Homo sapiens: one gene and its partner. The protein of the gene in region 2 purifies or fractionates together with the protein of the main gene of each other region. This does not show direct contact. Each region holds a gene or a part of one and is shown on either strand. Other genes may lie near its edges.

Region 1 (3,500 bases), on a different chromosome or scaffold from region 2:
TCACCGTCGCCTCCCACGACAGGACCACGGCCCAAACGGCTGGGAGAACGAGGCTCTTCAGGGCAGGCAGGGCTGCCGGCCTCCAGGGGTTCTGTGAATCAAGGGCTCCGAGAGGCCCCCCAGCCGTGGGCACTCCAACCCTGCTGCTCCACAAACAGTTCTGCAGCGCAAGCAAACCCATAAACGAGCCGCAGGGCTTGGGAACAAACTCACCTGAAGCTGCAGCAAGCTCCCAGGCCCTCTCTGTGCCGCGTCTGGGCTGCTGCCTAGAAAGGGAGGCATTTAATCAGGCACCTCAGCTTCCACCAGGAGGACTCTGACCCTGGAACACAGAGCCCCGCCTCCAGCCCTCTCTGCAGGAGCCAGAGTCCCGGGAAATCAGCCCCGGGAGACCCTTCGCCTTAGAAGCTGTCCGAGCTTCTGTCCTTGGGTGTCTGTCCGAGCGCCAAAGGCAGCCCGGGGAGCAGCAGGGGCTCAGCAGGCTCCTCACTACCCTGGTTTAAGGCCCTTGACCTGTCCAGTGCGGTCAACCTCCGGCCAGCCAGGACCGCAGACAGGGCCATTCAAGATCCTGTCCGGACCTCCCACGGCCCGACCCTGCTACAAGGAGCAGGCCGTGGGCAAGAGTCCATGAGCGGGGCTGCAGAGCAGCACCAGCCAGGGAGGGCGGCCGAGCTTCCCAGGCACTGCCAGGGAAAGGTGCCCAGCTTGGGCAGGCACAGGCACACAGCCAGGTGGCCACCTAGACTCCCCCGGACCCCAGCCCGAGTGCCACCCGGCCACTACAGCTGTCAGCAGGGCGGCCACTGCTTCGAGCCAGGCGGCTTTGCTTCTCTAAGGTCATGCTCTCCATGGCGGACCCACTGCGGTGGGCAGGATGCTCACGCTTCCCGCCCTGTCCTTCCTGGGCCCTGTGTAGGGCCCACCATGGACTCCTCACTCAGCCATCACCCTCTTTTTTGTTGGTTTTAAATTTTTTATTTTATTTTTTGAGATAGAGCCTCGCTCTGTCACCCAGGCTGGGGTGCAGTGGTGCAATCTCAGCTCACTGCAGCCTCCGCCTCCCAGGTTCAAGCTATTCTCCTGCCTCAGCCTCCCAAGTAGCTCGGATTACAGGCGCCCGCCACCGTGCCCAGCTAATTTTTGTATTTTTAGTAAAGACGAGGTTTCACCATGTTGGTCAGGCTGGTCTCGAACTCCAGACCTCAGGTGATCCACCCGCCTCGGCCTCCCCCAGTGCTGGGATTCCAGGCATGAGCCACCATGCCCGGCCCCTCACCCTCTTTTGTGATCAGCATGAGGATGGTGTGCAGGTGTGTCCAGTGGCACAGGCATCACCTGTTTTTTTTTTTTTTTTCTCTGACAGAGTCTCGCTCTGTTGCCCAGGCTGGAGTGCAGTGGTGTGATCTCGGCTCACTGCAAGCTCCACCTCCTGGGTTCACGCCATTCTCCTGCCTCAGCCTCCCGAGTAGCTGGGACTACAGGCGCCTGCCACCAGGCCCGGCTAATTTTTTTGTATTTTTAGCAGAGATGGAGTTTCACCGTGTTAGCCAGGATGGTCTCAATCTCCTGACCTCAGGTGATCCACCCGCCTTGACCTCCCAAAGTGCTGGGATTACAGGCGTGAGCCACAGCGGCTGGCTTTTTTTTTTTTTTTGAGACAGGGTATCACTCTGTCACCTAGGCTGGAGTGCAGTGGTGCCATCTCGACTCACTGCAACCTCTGCCTCCCGGGTTCAAGCAATTCTAGTGTCTCAGCCTCCCAAACATCTGGGATTACAGGCACACACCACCACGCCCAGCTAATTTTTGTATTTTTAGTAGAGATGGGGGTTTCGTCACGTTGGCCATGCTGGTCTCTACCTCCTGACCTCATGTGATTCACCCACCTTGGCCTTCCAAAGTGCTAGGATTACACGCATGAGCCACTGAGCCCAACCGAATTCTACTTTTTTTTCTTTTTTTTTTTTTTGAGACGGAGTATAGCTCTGTCGCCTAGGCTGGAGTGCAGTGGTGCCATCCCGGCTAACTGCAACCTCCGCCTCCCAGGTTCAAGCAATTCTACAGTCTCAGCCTCCTGAGTATCTGGGATTACAGGCACACACCACCACACCCAGCTAATTTTTTTATTTTTAGTAGAGATGGGGTTTCGCCATTTTGGTCAGGCTGGTCTCGAACTCCTGACCTCAGGCAACCCACCTGCCTCGGCCTCTGAAAGGGCTGGGATTACAGGTGTCAGCCACCGCACCCAGCCCCGACTTCTATTTTTAACAGGAAAAAAGGACCAGACAAGCACTCGTGGTTTTTGGCACTTCTCTACTTCTCTGCTTGCCATGTGGTGGCAGAAGCAGCCCTGGTCTGGGCAGCCCGGTGACCTCACTGGTGGCCAAGCAGAAGCCTCTGGGACACAGGGGGCACCTGTCACCCCAGAGAAGGGGACGGGGGCCTTGGGAGCCGTGTGGCCCTGGGCACCTGTCATCCCAGAGAAGGAGACGGAGGCCTTGGGAGCCGTGTGGCCCTGGGGGCACCTGTCACCCCAGAGAGGGAGACGGAGGCCTTGGGAGCCGTGTGGCCCTGGGGGCACCTGTCACCCCAGAGAAGGAGACGGGGGCCTTGGGAGCCGTGTGGCCCTAACCCAGAGGAGGCCTCGTGGCACCTCTTTCCCCATCAGCTCCAGCCTCTCTGCAGCCACCTTTTCAGGAGGGGCAGGAACTCCAGAAAGCTCCAAAACTTATTGCCTTTCTCATTACAGGGGACAGGGAGGTGGGGGGTAGGGAGTGGGGATCAGGCAGGGGCAGAAGGTGTAAGAGGTTCAACCTGCCTGGGGGACTTCACTTACAAAGGGCAGAGGCTGGGTGTGGTGGCGCCCACCTGTAGTCCCAGTATTTGGGAGGCTGAGGCAGGAAGATCACTTGAGCCCAGGAGTTTGAGGCTGCAGCGAGCTATGATTGCAACTGCACTCCAGCGTGGGCAACAGAGCACGACCCTGGCTCAAAAAAATAAAACTTAAAAAATGTTAAAATAAAGGGCAACTTTTTGAAGAGAAGTGAGGGGAAGGCCATGAGGAGGAACTCCCTCATTAGCGGAGCAAGCTCCTTCCACAGAGGAGCAGACGCTGCAGTCACTGTGACATTTAAAAAGCAGCGATGGCCCTGCGTCCTCCTGACATCCCGTCTAGGACCGCCAGGGAGGCGGGGATGGCAACCCTTGAAGCTTCCCTTTGACCTCAGGGAATCTGACAAATCGTTGTATCTGGAGGCCAGGATGGCGAGGCTGATGCCCATGACCCGACGGGACTCATGGGTCCACCCTGGTGCCCTGGATGAGTTCTGGGGAGGGCGGCCACACTGCTGGCTTCCCATGCAGCACTCAGGCAGGCCCCTCAGAGTGTGCAAAGCAACAGCCTGACGCAGCTCATCTTGGGGGGCCCACGGGGTCCCTGCCCTGGGCTAGGATGCCCCCATCCTCCCACAGACCCCATTCCGTGCACCCTGTGGGCC
Region 2 (4,013 bases):
GGCGCCTCCCAACATGCCCGGCTATTTTTTTGCATTTTTAGTAGAGACGGGGTTTCACCTTGTTAGCCACGATGGTTTCGATCTGCTAACCTCATGATCCGCCTGCCTCAGCCTCCCAAAGTGCTGGGATTACAGGCGTGACCCACCGCGCCCTGCCCACCATACAATTTTTAAAGGCTCAGGTTTCAGACTGAGCCAGCTCCCAGCAGCCCCAACCCTTGGAGAAACGGACAAGTTTTAGAACAGTAGTGGAACTTCCACATTCCAGTAGACATTTGAGTTATTTGCTGGGGGTGAGGCAGTGTTGATTGTACATGGTGCTTATTTATTTATTTATTTATTTAGAGACGGAGTTTCACTCTTGTCGCCCAGGCTGGATTCCAATGGCGCGATCTCGGCTCGCCGCAACCTCCGCCTCCCGGGTTCAAGCGATTCTCCTGCCTCAGCCTCCTGAGTAGCTGGAATTACAGGCATGCGCCACCACGCCCGGCTAATTTTGTATTTTTAGTAGAGACGGGGTTTCTCCATGTTGGTCAGGCGGGTCTCGAACTCCCGACCTCAGGTGATCCGCCCGCCTCGGCCTCCCAAAGTGCTGGGATTACAGGCGTGAGCCACCGCGCCCGGCCTATGGTGCCCATTTCACAGATGAGGGAAGTGACCCAGCCTCTCGGTCCCACTGAGGCACTGAGTCCCTGCCTGCTTCGTTTTGCCTTGCCCCCCAGCCCCTTTCCCCTGCCCCTCTATCTCCCCTGTCGGCTTCCCACGCCAGTCTCTGGTTCTCTGCCTCCTGCTGTTTAGTGGGGTCGAGACAGGGAGGACCGGGGAAGAGAGGGATGTGACTTGGCCCTGGCCACCCCGTGGGTCCACGGGGCTGCCGCAGAACAAGGGCCTGCCACCAGGCCCCTTAGACATCCCTTGCTCCTGCCCTTCTCAGGCTCTGATCGTGTCTCTGCTCCCCCAGGTCGCCCTTTCCAACTATTTTCCTGTCTGCCCCGCTGACGCGTCCGCTGCCGAAGCACCTCCTCTCTCTGACTTTCCGCCTTCCCGCTGCGACCCCGGTTTTGCCCCTCTCCAGCTCCCTCAGCCGCGGGCACCTGAGCTCTCCGCGGCCACCAGGGGGCGCCCGCGGCCCAGTCTGGGCGCGAGAGCCGCCAAGCGCCCACTCCGTTCCTCCTGGTGCCCCGCCCCGTCCGGCCGCGGCCCCGCCCCTCCCGGCGCCCCGCCCCGTCCGGCAGCGGCCTCGCTCCCTCCGATCCCCCCCGCGCCCGGGACCCCTGGCCCCACTGTTGGGCCAGCTCGCCGGGTCCGGCCATGGGCCCCGCCGCTCGCCCCGCGCTGAGATCGCCGCCGCCGCCTCCGCCGCCGCCTCCGTCTCCGCTGCTGCTGCTGCTGCCCCTGCTGCCGCTGTGGCTGGGCCTGGCGGGGCCCGGGGCCGCGGCGGACGGCAGCGAGCCGGCGGCCGGGGCGGGGCGGGGCGGAGCCCGCGCCGTGCGGGTGGACGTGAGACTGCCGCGCCAGGACGCTCTGGTCCTGGAGGGCGTCAGGATCGGCTCCGAAGCCGACCCGGCGCCCCTGCTGGGCGGTCGTCTGCTGCTGGTGAGCGCTGCTGAGCCATCTGGCCGCATCACTAAACCCCTCTCTCAACCCTCCCTAGAGACCCCGCACCCTGAACCGACGTTCATCCTCCACCAAGCCTTGAGAGTCCAGCGCCCCTCCCCAGGCTCCCCAGGCCCCCAGCATTCCGGCTTCCCAAACCAGAGAGCCAGATGCTCTGGGAACTCTGGCCTTGGCATCCACTGTGATGACCCCGGCTCCCTCCCCCACCACACCCTACCTCCCTCTGCTCATGGCCCCTTGCCACACAGATGGACATCGTGGATGCCGAGCAGGAGGCACCAGTGGAAGGCTGGATTGCAGTGGCATACGTGGGCAAGGAGCAGGCGGCCCAGTTCCACCAGGAGAATAAGGGCAGTGGCCCGCAGGCCTATCCCAAGGCCCTGGTCCAGCAGGTGCAGGGGATGTCTATGGGGGAGGGGGCTGGAGGAAAGGATTCCAAGGCATCTGCTAGAGCCAGGCCCTCCTTAGATGGGCCCTTAAGAGCTTGCAGAGAAGCCCTAGGCCTGGTGGGTCAGGGCACCCCAGTTTGAAGAATGGAGTCAGTATGGCTTCGAAGCAGGGAGGTGAGAGGAGGCCAGAGAGAGGTTGAGAAGCTTGACCAGGCTCTGAGAGTATGGGATGGGGGAGCTGCTGCTGACGACCACTGCTGGGACTGCCCTGATAGGACCGGGGAAGGCACAGCGCATCTGGAAGGGAGGCAGGAGGAAGAAAGCAGTTTCCACCTTTGACCTCAAGGAGCTTATGGCAGTCTGTCCAGAGTTTTGCTCACTGCAGGGCCAGGAGCTAAGAGCAGCTAGGGCTGCAGGTGGTGAGACAGGTGTGCAGGCAGGGTATATGCTAGCCTCTCGCCTTCTATCCCTCTGCAGATGCGGCGGGCCCTCTTCCTGGGTGCCTCTGCCCTGCTTCTTCTCATCCTGAACCACAACGTGGTCCGAGAGGTAAATCGGACCAGGCCGTGAGGGTAAGCAAGCTGGGGAAAGGGGGACCCAGGCCTGCTGACCTCCTTGTCTCCCTGCAGCTGGACATATCCCAGCTTCTGCTCAGGCCAGTGATCGTCCTCCATTATTCCTCCAATGTCACCAAGCTGTTGGATGCATTGCTGCAGTGAGTTGGTATTTAGACTTCAAAGGACTGACCCTGGGTACAGAGAGCCCCTGGTTCTCCCATGGACTGAGGGGGCTTGGGACCAGGGCCTTACCTGTTAGCCTTTTTTTTTTTTTTTGAGATGGAGTATCACTCGTGTTGCCCAGGCTGGAGTGCAGTGGCGCAATCTCGGCTCACTGGAACCTCTGCCTTCCAGGTTCAAGTGATTCTCCTGCCTCAGTCTCCCAAGTAGCTAGGATCACAGTCATGTGCCACCACACCCAGCTAATTTTTTGTATTTTTAGTAGAGACAGGGTTTCACCATGTTGGCCAGGCTGGTCTTGAACACCTGACCTCAGTTCCACCTGCCTCGGCCTCCCAAAGTGCTGGGATTACAGGCAGGAGCCCCCGTTGCCACTGCTGCTGCTGCTGCCCCTGCTGCCACTGTGGCTGGGCCTGGCAGGGCCCGGCCTAACTGTTAACTTTTTTTTTTTTTTTTTTTTGAGATGGAGTTTCGCTCTGTCACCCAGGCTGGAGTGCAGTGGCGCGATCTCGGCTCTCTGCAAGCTCTGCCTCCCGGGTTCATGCCATTCTCCCACCTCAGCCTCCCAAGTAGCTGGGACTACAGGTGCCCACCACCATGCCCGGCTAATTTTTTTGTATTTTTAGTAGAGACGGGGTTTCACCATGTTAGCCAGGATGGTCTCGATCTGCTGACCTTGTGATCTACTCGTCTCGGCCTCCCAAAGTGCTGGGATTACAGGTGTGAGCCACCGTACCCAGCCAACTGTTAGCTTTAAGACTGCCCTCTCGGCTGGGAATGGTGGCTCATGCCTGTAATCCCAGCACTTTGGTAAGCCAAAGAAGGAGTATCACTTGAGTCCAGGAGTTTGAGACCAGCCTGGGCAACATGGCAAGACTCAGTCTCTACAAAAAAATACAAAAATTAGCTGGGCATGGTGGCACATGCCTGTAGTCCCAGCTAATCAGGAGGCTGAAGTGGGAAGATCACTTGAGCCCCGGGGGTAGAGGCTGCAGTGAGCTGTGACTGTGCCACTGCACTCCAGTCTGGGTGACAAAGGGAGACCCTGTCTCAAAAAAAAAAAAAAGAAAGACTGTCCTGTCCCAGGCTGAAAAATGGGTGAGGGGATGGGAAGGAGGTGCCAGAGCCTGGAGCTTGGAGCAAGGAAGTGGCTCTGTGGGCAGAGAGGACTGGCCCCAGCAAGGAGGAAGATGGACTTGCAGGCTTCCCTGGCCTGGCTGGTGTGAAAATTGGAAAAACCAATAGAGGGAAAAGGCCTGGGGCAAAGTGT

The links. The genes of interacting proteins can lie anywhere in the genome.
Region 1: the proteins of RNF215 (region 2) and CAPN15 purify together in Homo sapiens (affinity purification with mass spectrometry; one large-scale study listed by BioGRID and IntAct). This does not show direct contact.

What each region holds. Positions count from the first base shown.
Region 1 is NC_000016.10:530,712-534,211, reverse strand, and holds part of CAPN15 (calpain-15), read right to left. Parts: intron 267-3,500; 5' UTR 214-266; intron 1-213.
Region 2 is NC_000022.11:30,384,612-30,388,624, reverse strand, and holds the start of RNF215 (RING finger protein 215 precursor), read left to right. Parts: upstream 1-1,213; 5' UTR 1,214-1,311; coding exon 1,312-1,596; intron 1,597-1,865; coding exon 1,866-2,009; intron 2,010-2,483; coding exon 2,484-2,555; intron 2,556-2,635; coding exon 2,636-2,721; intron 2,722-4,013.